Linked DNA regions of Homo sapiens: region 1 is linked to region 2. The links come from fine-mapping of genetic effects on gene expression. Tissue or cell type: blood mononuclear cells. Region 2 holds a variant in brackets; the other region holds the start of a gene. All regions are shown on one strand. Distances are between the middles of the regions.

Region 1 (8,096 bases), 50 kb after region 2:
TACTTTAAACCATTTTGACACAAACTGCAAAGTATCAAAGCCCCCTCAAAAATAGGAAAATAAAACAAGTAAGAGTTACACAAAAATTATAAATTTAGACAAGGTCTGTAGTATAAAATGTAACAAAAAATAACCTGACAAGGTCCATTCCTAATAGTGCTTCTTCATCACAAACTTCTTCTCTTCCCCATACAGCTTCATTCCCAATGCAAACTCCATGCTCATTGGCTCCCATTTCTGCCCCCCACAACCACGCTGGGCGACTCAGGACAACAGCATATGTTTCAGGAACTTGATCAATTTCTATATATGTACACTGTAAAAAAAAAAAAAAAAAAGTCATAGCAAGAACCACAAAACCAGAAAAGTTATCAAAATCCAGAATTTAAAAAAATCAGTCAGAAGACAAAACTGTTATGAAAGAGGTAAAGGAAATATAAGTAAATTGAAATTTTCAATAATAAAGGCATTACCCTTAAAACATATTCAGAATAACCCTAAAATATTTATTCATTCAAATATTTGCTGAGCATTTCCTATTATAAAACATTCTGCCAAGAGATATGTTAGTTACAAAGATGAATCAGATAAAGATCTCACTTTTGAGAAACTAAAACTTCTACATTAAGATAAAATAAAGTATAAAGTATTAGGGTCATGAAGTGAAGACAAGGTGCTATTGGAGCTCAGGAGAAAGATGGTCTCTAGCTGTAATATCTTGAAACATTTTTGTAGATGTGTGAGTTGAAGCTTAAGGAAGTAGTTCTCAACCTCAATATCCAGTGTTTCTTGATTAGTGATATAATTACTCACATGGTAGCCTTCGAATACAAGAGTTTTGTCATAGGAATCTCACATCACATTTTGAAGTCAACCATTAGGTATGCCCACAGCAATGAAAAGAATGAGAACCACTGGTTTACAGGACAGGCTATATTTAAATATGAAGAAATAAAGTGGAAGTGGTATCACAGATGAATAAGTGGTCTTAGCAAAAGAAAAAAATATGGCATAGGATACAGAAAAAAGTCTAATATTTAATATGTTTTAATATTAGAATATCAATAAAATAAAATCTAAAAAGTATGAATTAGCAACAATAGCATAATTTGAAGCTCTCATTTTAAGTTCCACATTAAATGGGTTTTTAAAATAAGTTTTTAAAGGATCCTTTAATTAATGTGTATACTACCAAGTGACTGCATAAAATGTATATTGATAGTGTTAACATAGGGCCTAATAAACCTTTTTTGATGTGTCATAAAACTGTCATTCCTAAAGTCTGGGATGACTTTCCTATTCTACATCAAGTAGAACCTAAGCCAATTCAGAATCAGAATCCTTTTTGTCCATCAAATTCCAGCTAACTCCAAGCTGAATTAAATGTTCATTCTCTTCCGCTGCCACAGCATGCTACTGTTACTTAAATTTAGCATTTAAACCATCCTATTTTATAATGGGGTATAATGCATACACATCTTATTGCTATACTAGACTCTAAGCTCCTGGAACAGAGTCTTGACAGCTGACTTTAAATCTCTTGCCCTATCTAACATGCTTGCATATGGAAAGCATTCAAATATTTATTCAAACAATGGATAATTTTATTATTGTTATTTCAACGTCCTCCGAATCACTGAAATAAAAGATCACAGTTTATTTCTGACTCATTTATTTTTCAAATGTAAACTCCTCAATTTTAACTTCTACAGTTTCTTCCAAATTGCTATGTATAGAAATAACTTTATGATATTTTTAAAAGGCATATTGCTAACAAAACATTTATTTCACCTACCTTAAGACGTTCTCCCAGGTTATCATGAACTACAGCAGGAAAATAAACCACCTCTTGTACTTCATCATAGAGTCTATCTGAATTTTTTCCAAAAATAATCCTGTTATCGACTGTTGCTGGAGGTAATGCCACGAAAGTGTCACAGGAAAAAGGTTCCATTTTTTTTAACTAAAAATTATACAGATGTTTTAAAATAAAAAGAACACTTTTAAGTATATAAAAATAAAGAGTTTTACTCAATGACCAAAGGATATTATTGCCATATCTAATTAAGGATGTTCATTAAAGCTTTGATTTTTTTATTTTTATTTTTTGGAGACAAGGTCTAGCTCTTTCACCCAGGCTGGAGTGCAGTTGTATGATCAGGGCTTACTGCAGCCTGGAACTCCTGGGCTCAGGAGATCCTCCCCCTTCTGCCTCCCAAAGCCCTGGGATTACAGGCATGAGTGACCGTGCTTGGCTGTTCATTAAAGTTTTAAATTTTGTATACTACAGCCTAAAAATCAGTAAGAATATGACTTGGGACTCAATCTGGTACTACAACTCAGTAAGAAAATGGCAATGAGAACTACCTTCTTCTACTGTATAGTTCACATTTATTCTCTAAGACCTTTCTCTCCTAAAGTCTTCCCTGAATTTCGTTTCACCATTTCCATATTTGGGAATCCGTGTACCTAGCTCTATTGTTGTAAAGGCTAGATTCCATTACATTCGTGTATATATAAATCCCTTTACTGGACAATGAGATCCTTGAGGGCTGGGAGTATGTCTTACTAATCTTTATATTCTCTTTGCTGGAACTTGTCTTATGGAAAAAAATCTTACGTGCCCAGTACTTCCTCAAAGGAAGGAAGAAGGGGTCTTATTTGAGCTGGGAAATAATACACATTATAATTCTGATGAGACTGAAATTTTGAAACAGACTCATTGATTCAGACAAAAATATGTCAATATAATTCCAAATTGCTGATATTTCTAGGAGAAAGTTCACATATTTAATTTATAAATCGCAATTATATACTTTAATATCTAGATTACCTCTTCAGTTGTAACTTGGAAAATCTTAGATCTTCACTTATAATAGAACACCTAAAGGTCCTTATTTTGCTGCCAGAACAGACACATTGTTTTACAGAGTTTCCTTCTTTCCTTTAATAATGGCAAAACCTTAAAATGGCTTTACACAGGCAGATGCTAGCAACTTAAAAACAAAATTTAAATATAATAAATGTTTCCTTAAAAAGAAAAGAAAATGACTAAATAAAAACTTCAGACTGAAACTCTTAAGGGTTTTCCTCTTCTCCTCAGTGACGAGAAGTCTGATGTCTTGATGGCTTCTGTTATTTTCTTTCTGTATTTCAACTCTTATGTCCTGGATCTCCTTCTATTTGTGTTTTATAGTTAGTTCTATCACTATATAACTTTGGCAGACTATTTAATCTCTCTCTTACCTATGCCTTCTGCCTCATCAGAAAAATAAGACACTATTTGATGGGCTGTTATGAGAACTTAATAAGGCAACACGTAAAGTGTTTTGCACAGTGCATAGAACATAGTAGATACTCACATGAAAGCTGTTATTGTTATTATTTGGTAGGAGAGAAAATTTCTCATAAAGGCTTATTCGTTTTTTGTTTTTTTTTTTTGATGGAGTTTAACTCTTGTTGCCCGGGCTGGAGTGCAATGGAGCAGTCTTGGCTCACTGCAACCTCCGCCTCCCGCGTTCAAGTGATTCTCCTGCCTCAACCTCCCGAGTAGCTGGGATTACAGGCGCGTGCCACCACACCCGGCTAATTTTTCGTGTTTTTAGTAGAGACGGGGTTTCACCATGTTGGCCAGGCTGGTCTTGAACTCCTGACCTCAGGTGATCCACCCACCTTGGCCTCCCAAAGTGCTGGGATTACAGGCGTGAGCTACCGCGCCCGGCCAAGGTTTATTCTTAACATTACCCTGATAGAGAACTTGGTTGGTGGATCACCTGCTGCAGTAGCAGCCACGTCCACTCAAAAACCTGGAGTCCCAAGGGCCATCAAGCTGCAATAGTAACCTGAGCTGCCTAACTGGGGTCGTAGGGAAAGCTAAGGAAACTTGCCCCCTGGTTAGAATTGCACCTAGCCCACTGAGGAGGTGAAGCCTTGAGAGATTTTACCAACTCCTAACGCGTATTCGTCATTCAATAAGTATTTATTGAACGTCTTTCGGCGCCAGTACCGTACAGCTGGGTACAAAATAGACAGGGCCTCCGTTCTTGCAGAGCTGTCTGTCATTCTATTTCACGCGCTCTTAGTTCAGCCGGCGCTTTCAGAAACATCATATTGTTGGATTCTCGCAAGCATACTACGGTTAGGGCCGGAATTATTATCTTCATAACATAGATGAGAAAAACAGTGCAGAAAAGCTTTTGCAGCTCGAGTCAGAGTCCACAGAAAGTAATGGGCTCGAGCTTCAAGCACCTTTGGTCGAAGGGCCGCCGCGGTCCACCCCGCACCCCGGCCCTGGGCGCTCAAACCGCAGCCGGTGCAGCTGGGCTCCGGAGCCCCTCGGTCAAGCAGTGCCGCGCCACAGTTGGGTCTTCCGGGTTTCTGTCTCAACTATGCACGCCCCTCCCCCGTGCGCGCCCCTCACCTGGCCTCCCAGCTACCCGAAGTGACAGGTGGACGGAGGGAGGAGTGGCCAGTGGAGGCATCAGTTGCCGGAAGCTGTCACCTTTGATCTCGGAAGTTCCCCCTTGCTGCTGGAAACGCAGTTCCGGTTAGGCGGCTGAGTTTGTTTACGTTGCTAACAGATCTAGCCCCTGCTTTCCCTAGTTCCAGTTCCAAGATGGGGAAATCCTTCGCCAACTTCATGTGCAAGAAAGACTTTCATCCTGCCTCCAAATCCAATATCAAAAAAGTGAGTAAACAGACCCGGGGAGGGATTAGGCCCACAGGGACCGCCTTCCCAGAGGCTGCTGGAAGTGAAAGTGATGGTGTCTCTGAGATCCCTAGGACAGCCTCCGCTTCTCTAGGCCTAAAGCCCTGGTGGTCTCGCCTTTCTCTGCTGAGCAGCTCGCTGACGCAGCGGGTCCTCAGCGTTTATTCTGCAACAGCGAGGAGACCGGTGGCCTAGAGAATCTTTGTCGGCCAGAATGCAAATCCATAATATGCGAAGACTAATGTCAAAATTCCTCAGTACTTCCTTCAGCTGATTCTGGTTTTTTGTCTTTTCGGATCCCAGGGATCACGGCTTCTGAACTCTACTTTTCTGTACAAAGAAGCCTCCCCGTTTACTTAAGATAGATCTTTAAAAAAATTACCTAATAATCTAGTGTCTTTTTGATGACTAAACTCGTTGAAGTTTAGTGTTTTACATAATTACAGGTCTACCAGTTGTAATACTTTGGTGAATATCATAGTAATGAAAAGCAAAAGAGTGAAGTAGAAAGAATCAGCTTTGGAGTCAAACCTGGATTCTAGTTATTCGAGCAGTCACTTTTAGCCTTAAGACCTTGCACAAAATATTTGTAATATCTGACCCTCAGTCTTCTAATCTGTAAATTAAGGATGATTGACTTAATTGTGAGGATTAAGTGAAATAGTGAAGATAAAGGATTTGAAACAACGTAGGCATCTATCACTGTGTCCACTACAGAGAGGAGGTGCTCAATAAAATGTTGATTGCCCCTACATAGAAACTTGTGAAAATAACTAAGCTTTTATTTGTTTTTAGAACGAGTTGAGGTGATGAGATACTGCTATATACTCTCACTTCTAGACCAGTGATTCTCAACTTTTTTTTCACTGTTACCTTCCTAAGGAGTCTTATTAAACATTTTTTCTTAATAACTCCCCCATGAAATTTTAATAACACAGATACACCTTGAAAGCTCTTTGGTAATCATCCAGCCCCATCTCCTCATTTTATAAATGAGGAAACAAATTTGCCAAGAGTTACACAGCTAGTTAAATGTTGTACCAGAACTAGGATCTGGAACACCTGATTAACCCAGTGATTTTTTTTCCACTGCACCAGTTTGTGTTTGTGTGGTTGCAACTGTGGGAGGGAGAGGTTTCTTGTATTTGGTTGGCTCAATAACTTTTGACACCAAACACAGACATTTCCTTTCTCTGCATACTTAGGGGGTCAGCTGTTACTATTTTTACAAGAATGAAGAGATTAGATGGAATTCAGGTGCTTGCTTATTTGCTGTTTATATTTAGAGACAAATATACCTGAGAAATCATAATTTTTTACTGGAACTTTTGACATTTCGCTTTATAAATTTCAATGTATCAGCTTTCTTACAAGAAAAAAGAAATCCACAGAGAATAACTTTTGCAAGTCCGCTATGAGAAATTCAGTAAAGCAGTTATAGGCTTAGAACCTACATTCTTCTCATCTGTGTAAAGTGTTATGTAAAATGTACCAAATATTGTTGGCCTCTTTGATCTGTTTTATACTTTTCCCAGGATAGAGGAGAAGAATGAAATGTTTTTGATTAGCAGACCTTTCTAGATAGTTAACACTTTATGGGGAGAGGGGGTGACCTCTAGCATTCTTTATTAACTAAGGATAAAGGAACTATATTAAATGAAGATAAATAGAAAAATTTATTAGGGTAGGAGGAAACTTTTGGAGGTGATGGATATGTTTATAGTGTAGATTGTGATGATGGTTTCACAGGGATATACTTGTCACCAAACTCAGGTTGTATACATTAAATATGTACAGCTTTTTATATGTCATACTCCAGTAAAGTTTTTTTTTTTTTTTAATAGAAGTGGAAGAAACAAAGGAGTTTGATCAAAGAGTGCAAAAGAGTTCCACCATGAAAATTTTAAGGGCCAGGTATGGTGGCTCATACCTATAATTCCAGCACTTTGAGAGGCCAGGAATTCAAGACCAGCATAGGCAACAAAGTGAGACCCCATCTATATTTAAAAAGAAAGAAAGAAAATTCTAATTGTAAAATTAGGCATGTTGGGTTTATTAAAGTCCAGTAGGTTCTTTTTTTCCTTGTTTGTTTTCAGTTTCCCAAGCTTATAAAAAGTCCAGTAGGTTTTAAGGTCTCATTTGTTCACCAAAAATAAGAGTGAATGCTGTATATCTGCTGGTCACTCTGTTGTGTATTGTTATGCGCTGCCTCAATCATTTATGTCACAGGATACACTGTTTTGTTCAGCTGTTCTTTTTTTTTCTTGATTTTGTTAATGAAGGAAGCAGTTAATTTACATTGTGGTCCAAGCTCTTTAGTCTTCTTGTGGACTGGCAAACAGTTCATAAACTGGCTATTGACAATTGCATCACTGTAAACTCCCTTTTTTGTGAAACTCTCTGTTCCCTTAGCTGTAATAACTACTCTCTTCTAGTTTTCCAGCTCTCTTATTAGACTGTTCTTTTCCCATCAACTTCACTGGATCTTTATTCTTAGCCTGCTCCTAAAATATAAGTGTTCCCCAGAGTTTCATCCTTGGCCCACTTCTTGCTTACTTAGTATGCTTGCCCCAAGCAATCACATCCAACTAGCCTGTTTTAACTAGCCTGTTTACTCATGACTCAAATCTGCAGTCCCAGTTTTCTCTTCTTAACTTTGATGTGGCTCAAGACAGCTATCTACTAGACATTTGCATCTTGATGTCCTATAGGCACCTCAAACTCAACATATCTGATATAAAAGTTTTTTACCCCAAATCAGCCCTTTTTATACTTGCTATCTCATATGGGTAGAAATATAGATAGTAAAACAGTCCCTCATCCTGTTGCCCAAACCAGAAGCTCAGGATTCATCCCTTTTCCCATCACTCCTTTATCTAGTCAATCACTGAATGCTATTGGTCTTACCTTCCAAATATCTCTTGAATCCATCTTTCCTTTCTGTCACTGCTGCTTGTGTCTTAATTCAGACCCTCATCATCTTTCACCTATATTGTTGCATTTCCTAAGTGGTTCTACTGCCTCCAATCTTGAGTCCTCTCAAATCCATTCACTACACAGCCATCAGAATAGTCATTTTTCATTTTAACAGCTCTGCTGAGATAAATTTACATATCATACAAACACCCATGTAAAATGTACAATTTAGTGGTTTTTAAAATGTATTCATGGAGTTAAGTAATCATTACCACAAACAATTTTAGAACTTTGTCATCACCCCAAAAAGAAACCCCCGCTGGGCATGGTGGCTCACACCTGTAATCTCTGCACTTTGGGTGGCTGAGGTGGGTGGATCACCCGAGGTCAGGAATTCAAGACAGCCTGGCCAACATGGTGAAACCCTGTCTCTACTAAAAGTACAAAAATTAGCTGGGTGTGGTGGCGGGCG
Region 2 (8,108 bases):
ACCTGCCACCATGCCCGGCTAATTTTTATATTTTTAGTAGAGACGGGATTTCACCATATTGGTCAGGCTGGTGTCAAACTCCTGACCTCAGGTGATCTGCCCACCTCAGCCTCCCAAAGTGCTAGGATTACAGGCGTGAGCCACCGCATCCGGACTTGTTTAGTTTTTTAGAGACAGGGTTTCGCCATGTTGCCCAGGCTGGTCTCGAACTCCTGAGCTCAAGCGATCTGCCCGCCTTGTCCTCCCAAAGTTCTGGGACTACAGGCATGAGCCACTGTGCCTGGCCTATTTCATTCTTTTTATGGCTACATAGTATTCCATGGTATATATGTAGCACATTTTCTTTATCCAGTCCACCATCGATGGGCACCTAGTTTGATTCCATGCTTTGCTGTTGTGAGTAGTGCTGTGATGAACATGCAAGTGCATGAGTCTTTTGGTAGAACCATTTTTTTTCTTTTGGATATGTACCCAGTAATGGGATTGCTGGGTCATATGGTAGTCCTGTTCTAAGTTCTTTGAGAAATCTCCAGGCTGCTTTCCACAGTGACTGAACTAATTTACATTCCCACCAATGGTATAAAGCATTCCCTTTTCTCTACAGCCTCACCAGCATCTGTTGTTTATTGATTTTTTAATAATAGCCCTTCTGACTGATGCAAGACGGTATCTCATTGTGGTTTTGATTTCTCTGATGATTAGTGATGTGCAGCATTTTTTCATGTTTGTTGGCCGCTTGTATGTCTTCTTTGAGAAGTGTCTGTTCATGTCTTTTGTGCATTTTTTAATGGAGTTATTTGTGTTTTGTTTGTTCAATTGTTTAAGTTCCTTATAGATTCTGGATATTAGGCCTTGTTAGATGCATAGTGTGCGAATATTTTCTCCCATTCTGTAGGTTGTCTGTCTACTCTGTTCATAGTTTCTTCTGCTATGCAGAAGCTCTTTAGTTTAATTAGGTCCCACTTGTCAATTTTTGGTTTTGTTTTTGTTTTTACCTTAAAACTTCCCAGTAGGCCGGGCGCGGTGGCTCACGCCTGTAATCCCAGCACTTTGGGAGGCCGAGGCGGGTGGATCATGAGGTCAGGAGATCGAGACCATCCTGGCTAACAAGGTGAAACCCCGTCTCTACTAAAAATACAAAAAATTAGCCGGGCGCAGTGGCGGGTGCCTGTAGTCCCAGCTACTCGGGAGGCTGAGGCAGGAGAATGGCGTGAACCCGGGAAGCGGAGCTTGCAGTGAGCCGAGATTGCGCCACTGCAGTCCGCAGTCCGGCCTGGGCGACAGAGCGAGACTCCGTCTCAAAAAAAAAAAAAAAAAACAAAAAACAAAAAACAAAAAACTTCCCAGTATAGTGTTTTTGTTACAATTGCTTTTGAGGACTGAGTCATAAATTCTTCCCAAAGGTCGATGTCCAGAATGGTGTTTCCTAGGTTTTCTTCTAGGATTCTTATAGTTTGAGGCATTACTTTTTTTTGAGACACAGTCTTGCTCTGTTGCCCATGCTGGAGTGCCATGGCACGATGTTGGCTCACTGTAACCTCTGCTCCCAGGTTCAAGCAATTCCCTTGCCTCAGCCTCCCAAATAGCTGGGATTACAGGCGGCCGCCACCATGCCTGGCTAATTTTTGTATTTTTAGTAGAGACAGGGTTTCACCATGTTGGCCAGGCTGGTCTTGAACTCCTGACCTCAAGTGATCCGCCCATCTCAGCCTCCCAAATTGCTAGGATTACAGGCGTGAGCCACCGTGCCTGGCTGAGACATTACATTTAAATCTTAGTCCATCTTGAGTTAATTTTTGTATATGGTGAAAGGCAGGGGTTAAGGCAAATTGTAAACTCTTTAATGAGAGGTTAAGAGATAATAATAATTTGTTTCACAGTTAGCCAAAATAGGGTATTCATGACTAATATGTAGATTTATCAGTGATAAAACTTGAGTTATTAATTCGGCCTTTAAAATTATATGTATATAATTTTAATATATACAATATAAAAATAAAAATATATATTATATACTTTTTCAACCTTTGTCCCCCTTCCTCCCTCCTCACCTCTAGTAGTCCCCAGTTCCTATTGTTGCCATCTTTATGTCCATGAGTATCTGATATTTAGCTCCCACTTATAAGTAAGCACATGCAGTACTTGGTTTTCTGTTCCTGTGTTAATTCACTTAGGATATATATAATATCTAATATATATTATATATTTAATATATAATTTATATATGTAAATTATAAATATAATTAAATATAAAATTTTTATTTATATATGCTTATATATTAATTTGTAATTTATATAATATGCACAAATTACATATATAATTATATATAAATTTATATGATTATAATATATACTGATATATAATATACATTTATAACATAATATATAATTGTTATATAATTATATATGTAATGTGTATATATTATTTATATAACTAATATATAAAATAAAAATTATATATAATTTATACTTAATTATATTAATTATATAAAAATTATATATAATTTTTTATTATTTTTTTTAATTTTTTTTGAGACAGAGTCTTACTCTGTGGTGCAGTCTTGGCTCACCACAACCTCTGCCTCCTGGGTTCAAGCGATTCTCCTGCCTCAGCCTTCCAAGTAGCTGGAATTACGGGTGCCCGCCACCACACCCAGTTAATTTGTGTATTTTTAGTAGGGATGAGGTTTCACCGTGTTGGCCAGGCTGGTCTTGAACTCCTAATCTCAAGTAATCTGCCTGCCTCGGCATCCCAAAGTGCTGGGATTACAGGCATGAGCCACCGCACCCAGGCAAATTATGTATAATTTTTAAAGACCAAATTATATAACTTATGTTAGATAATTATATATATAAAACATTGTTGAATAGTGTAAAAGGGAACTATTGTATTCTACTTATGTTTTTTGAGATAAAAACATTTCAGCTAGAATTCTTCTAAAGCAACATGAAGGAGCTTTCTTCCAATTTCATCTAAAATAATATACTGATTCTTAGCTGAATGTGCTTTTCTGTTGTTTCTCTTAGGAAGTCATTACAAATTTAAAATGCATTTAGATAAAAAGCTCTGATTACAAATTGTTGTGCTTACTCTTTTATAGACAATCATTGTGTGAGTCGCTGTAACTCCCAGAGCTGCATATTAGCCCAGGAAGAAGAACAGTATCTACAGAGTGGAGACCAGCAACTGACCCGACATGTGTTGCTGTGTTTACTTCTCATCATTGGCCTGTTCGCTGTAATGGTTTTTTCTGGTTTTGTTTTGGGGCCATTTCTTTAAATTTTTGGCAAAGGTTTTATTCAGGCATCCGGGAAAAACTTAGTTGCTGCTTTCCAGAAGTGTGGTAGCTAGGTCACCTGAATTTGGATCTTGAGCTAAATAATTGCAGGTGTGAGGGGAAGAGATGAATCATTCACATTACTCTGAGGCCTGAGTGCTCCAATAGCTTATTCTGCTTAGAATCATTTATTCATTCTATGCTCTGAACCTAGAATTTGGTAAAAGCAGCTATTTCTTTTTATTTTTTATTTTTTTTTTTTTTGAGACAGAGTCTAACTCTGTTGCCCAGGCTGGAGTGAAGTGGCATGATCTCAGCTCACTGCAACCTCTGCCTCCCGGGTTCAAGCGATTCTCCTGCTTCAGTCTCCTGAGTAGTTGGGATTACAGGCGCATGCCACCATGCCTGGCTAATTTTTGTATTTGTAGTAGAGACGGGGTTTCATCATGTTGGTCAGGCTGGTCTTGAACCCCTGACCTCAGGTGATCCACCCTCCTTAGCCTCCCAAAGTGCTGGAATTACAGGCGTGAGCCACTGCGCCAGGCCCAAAAGCAGCTATTTCAATAATGTACACAGGGCCACTTATTCCTAACATACCTGACTGACCAAAGTGGATAAATGCCTACATTAATGTCTCAGAACATGAAACCTCAGTGTCCACCAGAAAAAAAAAAAGAAAACCAAAAAACCTCTCAGAACATATTCCTCAGATAAACTTTAAAAAATAATTTTCAATTATCAAAATAACATAACTACTTCATATAATAGACCCTTACAAAATAGAGAAAATTAAAATACAGTATTTTATTTTTAGACTACATGCATTTCTTTGATTACTAAATGTCCTATTTGTGAATTATCAGTTCTTATTATATAATTCTTTGAGATGGTTCAAGTGTAACTCGTCCAGAGGTAGGAGATGGACCAGATAACCTATGAAGGAACGCTTTGCACACTGGGATGCTCGTGAGATAGTGTGATATCAGCCAATACCACTTTAAGTGCCATTTAAGAACAAAAATCAAAAAATAAGAAATGCTGCCAAGAATTGCTTAGTGATGTAATTGTTTTCATTGTGTAGAACTAAATTTAAAATCAGGCCTGTCTTAGGCTAGTTGGCAATCTTGATACATTATGTAAGCTTCTGTATTATGGCTCATGTCTTCTTGCTTCAAATCTGATCAGAATAGATAACTGTTTGAATGACATCTGTCAGGAGGAGAGGTTGAAACTTTCTTATTGAAAAGATAAAGCCTCTATATTCTCTCA[G/C]TGTTTTTCCGTCTAGTCTTTTTCCCTGTAATTATTAAGTAGGTAAGTTATTGTACTATGCTGTGGATGGAGAGGAATTATCAGCTTGCTTGATTTTAAAATACTCTTTTCTCCTTTCTTTACAGAATCTTTCCAGTTGTTTATGGTGGCTATTCAACCAAGAGCCTGGAAGACTTTATGTTGAGTTACAGTTTTTCTGTGCCGTGTTTAACTTTGGTCAGGTATTTATTTATGGAGAACTTTGAGGGGTTTTTGTCTTCCTGGATAGGTTGATTGGTAGGGGGTCGGGGGAAGCGGGGAGTGGATTAGGATGTTGTTTTCTTTCACATAAAAAGGATTTAGTTTGTTTGCCAGCTGCTGGTATGCATGGCAGCTGACAGCTGCTGCTTGTCTTCTAGTAGAGACGAATTATTATATTGGTTAAAGTCATCAGAATGTACGCTGAGTGCTTCCACCAGAAAAATGCCAGGTAGTAACTTTGGTGTGATCTTAATAAGTCACATTGGGACCGGGCTCATTGGCTCACACCTGTAACCCCAGCACTTTGGGAGGCCAAGGTGGGCAGGTCACTTGAGGCCAGGAGTTCAAAACCAGCCTAGCCAACATGGTGAAACCCCATCTCTACAAAAAAATACAAAAAAATTAGCCAGACGTGGTAGTCCATGCCGATAATCCAAGCTACTGCAGAGGCTGAGGCACAAGAATCACTTGAACCCAGGAAGTGGAGGTTGCAGCGAGCTGAGACTGTGCTACTGCACTCCAGCCTGGGTGACAGAGTGAGATGAGACTGTCTCAAAAAAAAAAAAAAAAAAAAAGGTCACTTTGGGAAAATAACTTAATTTCCCTGAACTTTTAATTTAGCTCCTTAAATTTTTTTTTTTTTTTTGAGACGGAGTTTCGCTCTTGTTGCCCAGGCTGGAGTGCAATGGCGTGATCTCAGCTCACTGCAACCTCTGCCTCTCAGGTTCAAGCAATTCTCCTGTCTCAGCCTCCTGAGTAGCTGGGATTACAGGCATGCACCACTACGCCCGGCTAATTTTGTATTTTTAGTAGAGACGGGGTTTCTCCAGTTGCTCAGGCTAGTCTCCAACTCCCAACCTCAGGAGATCCACCCACCTCAGCCTCCCAAAGTGCTGGGATTACAGGCATGAGCCACCACACCCGGCCATCTCCTTAAATTAGTGGACATCATTTCATTTACATTTTGATGTTTCTTGAACAATAGATACTTAAATCTTAAAAAGAAAAATCATGTGGTATATAAATAAATTTTGGCTAGGGATAGCAGTTACCATTCCTTGATAGTCTACTATGTGCCAACCATCGTTAAGCATTTTACATTCATTATCTCATTTAAACATCATGACAACACCTGCAAAGTAGTATTATCACCCCCAGTTTATGAATTAGGAAACTAAAATTCCATAAACAAGTAATATGATAGGTGCTATTGTCTATGTTTATGTCACTATTAAAATGGATACTTAAGGATAAATTACATCTTACATATTGGGAAAATATTTTTTATGTGCAAATTCCAAATTTTGACCTTTAACTCCTTACTTTTTTTTTTTAATTGAGATGGAGTCTCATTCTGTCATCCAGGCTGGAGTGCATTGGCATTAGCTCACTGCAACCTCCACCTCCTGGGTTCAGGTGGTTCTCCTACCTCAGCCTCCTGAGTAGCTAGGACTACAGGCACCTGCTACCATGCCCAGCTAATTTTTGTATTTTCAGTAGAGATGAGGTTTCACCATGTTGGCCAGGCTGGTCTTGAACTCCTGACCTCAAGTGATCCACCTGCCTTGGCCTCCCAAAGTGCTGGTATTAACGGGCATGGGCCACCGCACCCAGCCCTTACTTTTGCATTACAGAATATTAGTCCACAGACTGAGTATCAGGTCAAAAAACAAAAAACCCCACACATTTGAAATCACTGAGTTTGTCTATTAAATCTAAAATAATTTGCCATATGAATGAGTTAACATTTGTCAATAGATGTTGCTGTTTTTCCTAATATTAATTTCTTACAATATTTACAGTTTGGCCATTATGATGGGAGCAAAAATGGCTATGCCCACAGAGACAAATGACCTTAATCAGTTTATTACAGACAGACATGAGCATCCTACTTGATATCTCACTTTGTGATACTGTTTAAGATCTGATTTTGTATCTAAGAACTATAAAATACTGAGTTGAAAAATCATAGTCTGACTTAGCATTTTGCATTCAGAAAGCCCATTCTAAGCTGAGCTATCCAGAACTGGGACTGGGATGAGCTTCATTCCATAGGGCTGTGTCATCAACAGCAGCTAATGCCAGGAATGTTGCATTTAAAATGCTGCCCCACAACTTAAGGCCGAAGTGGTTCAATGGAGCAAGACAGACAGAAACCCCATTCCCATCCCATTTTCCTCTTGGGGAGGTGGTATGGTAAGCTCATTCCCTTCTGGCTGTTTATAGTATGGGGGATGAAGAAATTTGGGTCCTTCTGCATTCTCCATTCTACTTCTATCAAGTTGCACTCAGATCCTTATCCCAGTGTGACACAGATGGCAGCTCCCAACTTCCTATCTCTCAAAAAGAGTCTTTAAATTGTCCTAACCTGTGGCTGATACCTGGTGCTAGGCATTTGCCTTGACACTCACAAATCCTTGAACTCTTCTCCTAACCACTAGCCAGTTTCACTTTACATAAATTCTGTTCAATTACTGCATTATTATTAGATACTGCAACACTTGTTAATTATATAATTTGTGAGGTTTCATGGAAAAATAATAAATACTTACGCACAGTGGGAAATATTTTCTTTTTATAAAGGGGAAACAAAGACATATATGCCCTTAAACGTTTTCATTTTACTATCATGTAAATGCGGCTGCTCAGCCCTGGTTTGTATCACCCATCACAATGAGTGGGATAGAATGATTGGGAAAAGGCAGCAAAGCATCATACCTGCCTTTGAAGGGCCTACTTTGTGTGTTCCACTTAAAATGTTGCTCTTGTCACTATAGGTTTGTCTCCTCAAACACTAAATTTGGTGACTTCCTTAACTTCTCTGTTTTAAAATGTTATTGTTGAATTCTGAAAAAAATAACTTTGTTTTCTTCCCTAGGGATTTATTTCCTTTGGAATCTTTGGATTAGATAAACATTTAATCATCCTGCCTTTCAAAAGAAGGTAAATTAAGTTTTGAAATAAATCTGTATCTGTAAATGTGATGACAAAGCCATTATATTAAGATACTGATATGGGGCCATGCATGGTGGCTACTTGTAATCCCAGTACTTTGGGAGGCCAGGGTGGGCAGATTGCTTGAACTCAGGAGTTCAAGACCAGCCTGGGCAACATAGTGAAACCTAGTCTCTACAAAAAAAAAAATACAAAAATTAGCCAGGTGTGGTGGCATGCTTTTGTAGTCCCAGCTACTCAGGAGGTTGAGGCAGGAGGATGGCTTGAACCTGGGAGGCAGAGGTTGCAGTGAGCCAAGATTGTGCCACTGCACTCCAGCCTGGGCGACAGAGCAAGATCCTGTCACACACACACGCACACACACAC

Evidence for each region. PIP is the estimated chance that this variant, and not a neighbour inherited with it, causes the effect.
Region 1: it holds the start of SCRN3, and the variant in region 2 is fine-mapped to the expression of SCRN3 in blood mononuclear cells (TOPMed, PIP above 0.99).

What each region holds. Positions count from the first base shown.
Region 1 is chr2:174,392,142-174,400,237 of GRCh38, reverse strand. SCRN3 (secernin 3) reads right to left here and starts at 4,508. Exons shown (of 8, transcript NM_024583.5): 1 at 4,421-4,508; 2 at 1,796-1,963; 3 at 135-316. The coding sequence starts at 1,954. It overlaps CIRSR (corepressor of RBPJ and splicing regulator), which reads left to right and starts at 4,526. Exons shown (of 10, transcript NM_004882.4): 1 at 4,526-4,687. The coding sequence starts at 4,616. RefSeq lists enhancers at 3,580-4,080, 4,578-4,627 and a silencer at 8,014-8,096.
Region 2 is chr2:174,441,741-174,449,848 of GRCh38, reverse strand. GPR155 (G protein-coupled receptor 155) reads left to right here. Exons shown (of 16, transcript NM_152529.7): 12 at 3,102-3,238; 13 at 4,673-4,768; 14 at 7,666-7,730. Among named protein-coding and RNA genes, the nearest start is that of GPR155, 41 kb to the left of the region's middle. The variant G/C (reference allele first, on the strand shown) is at 4,548.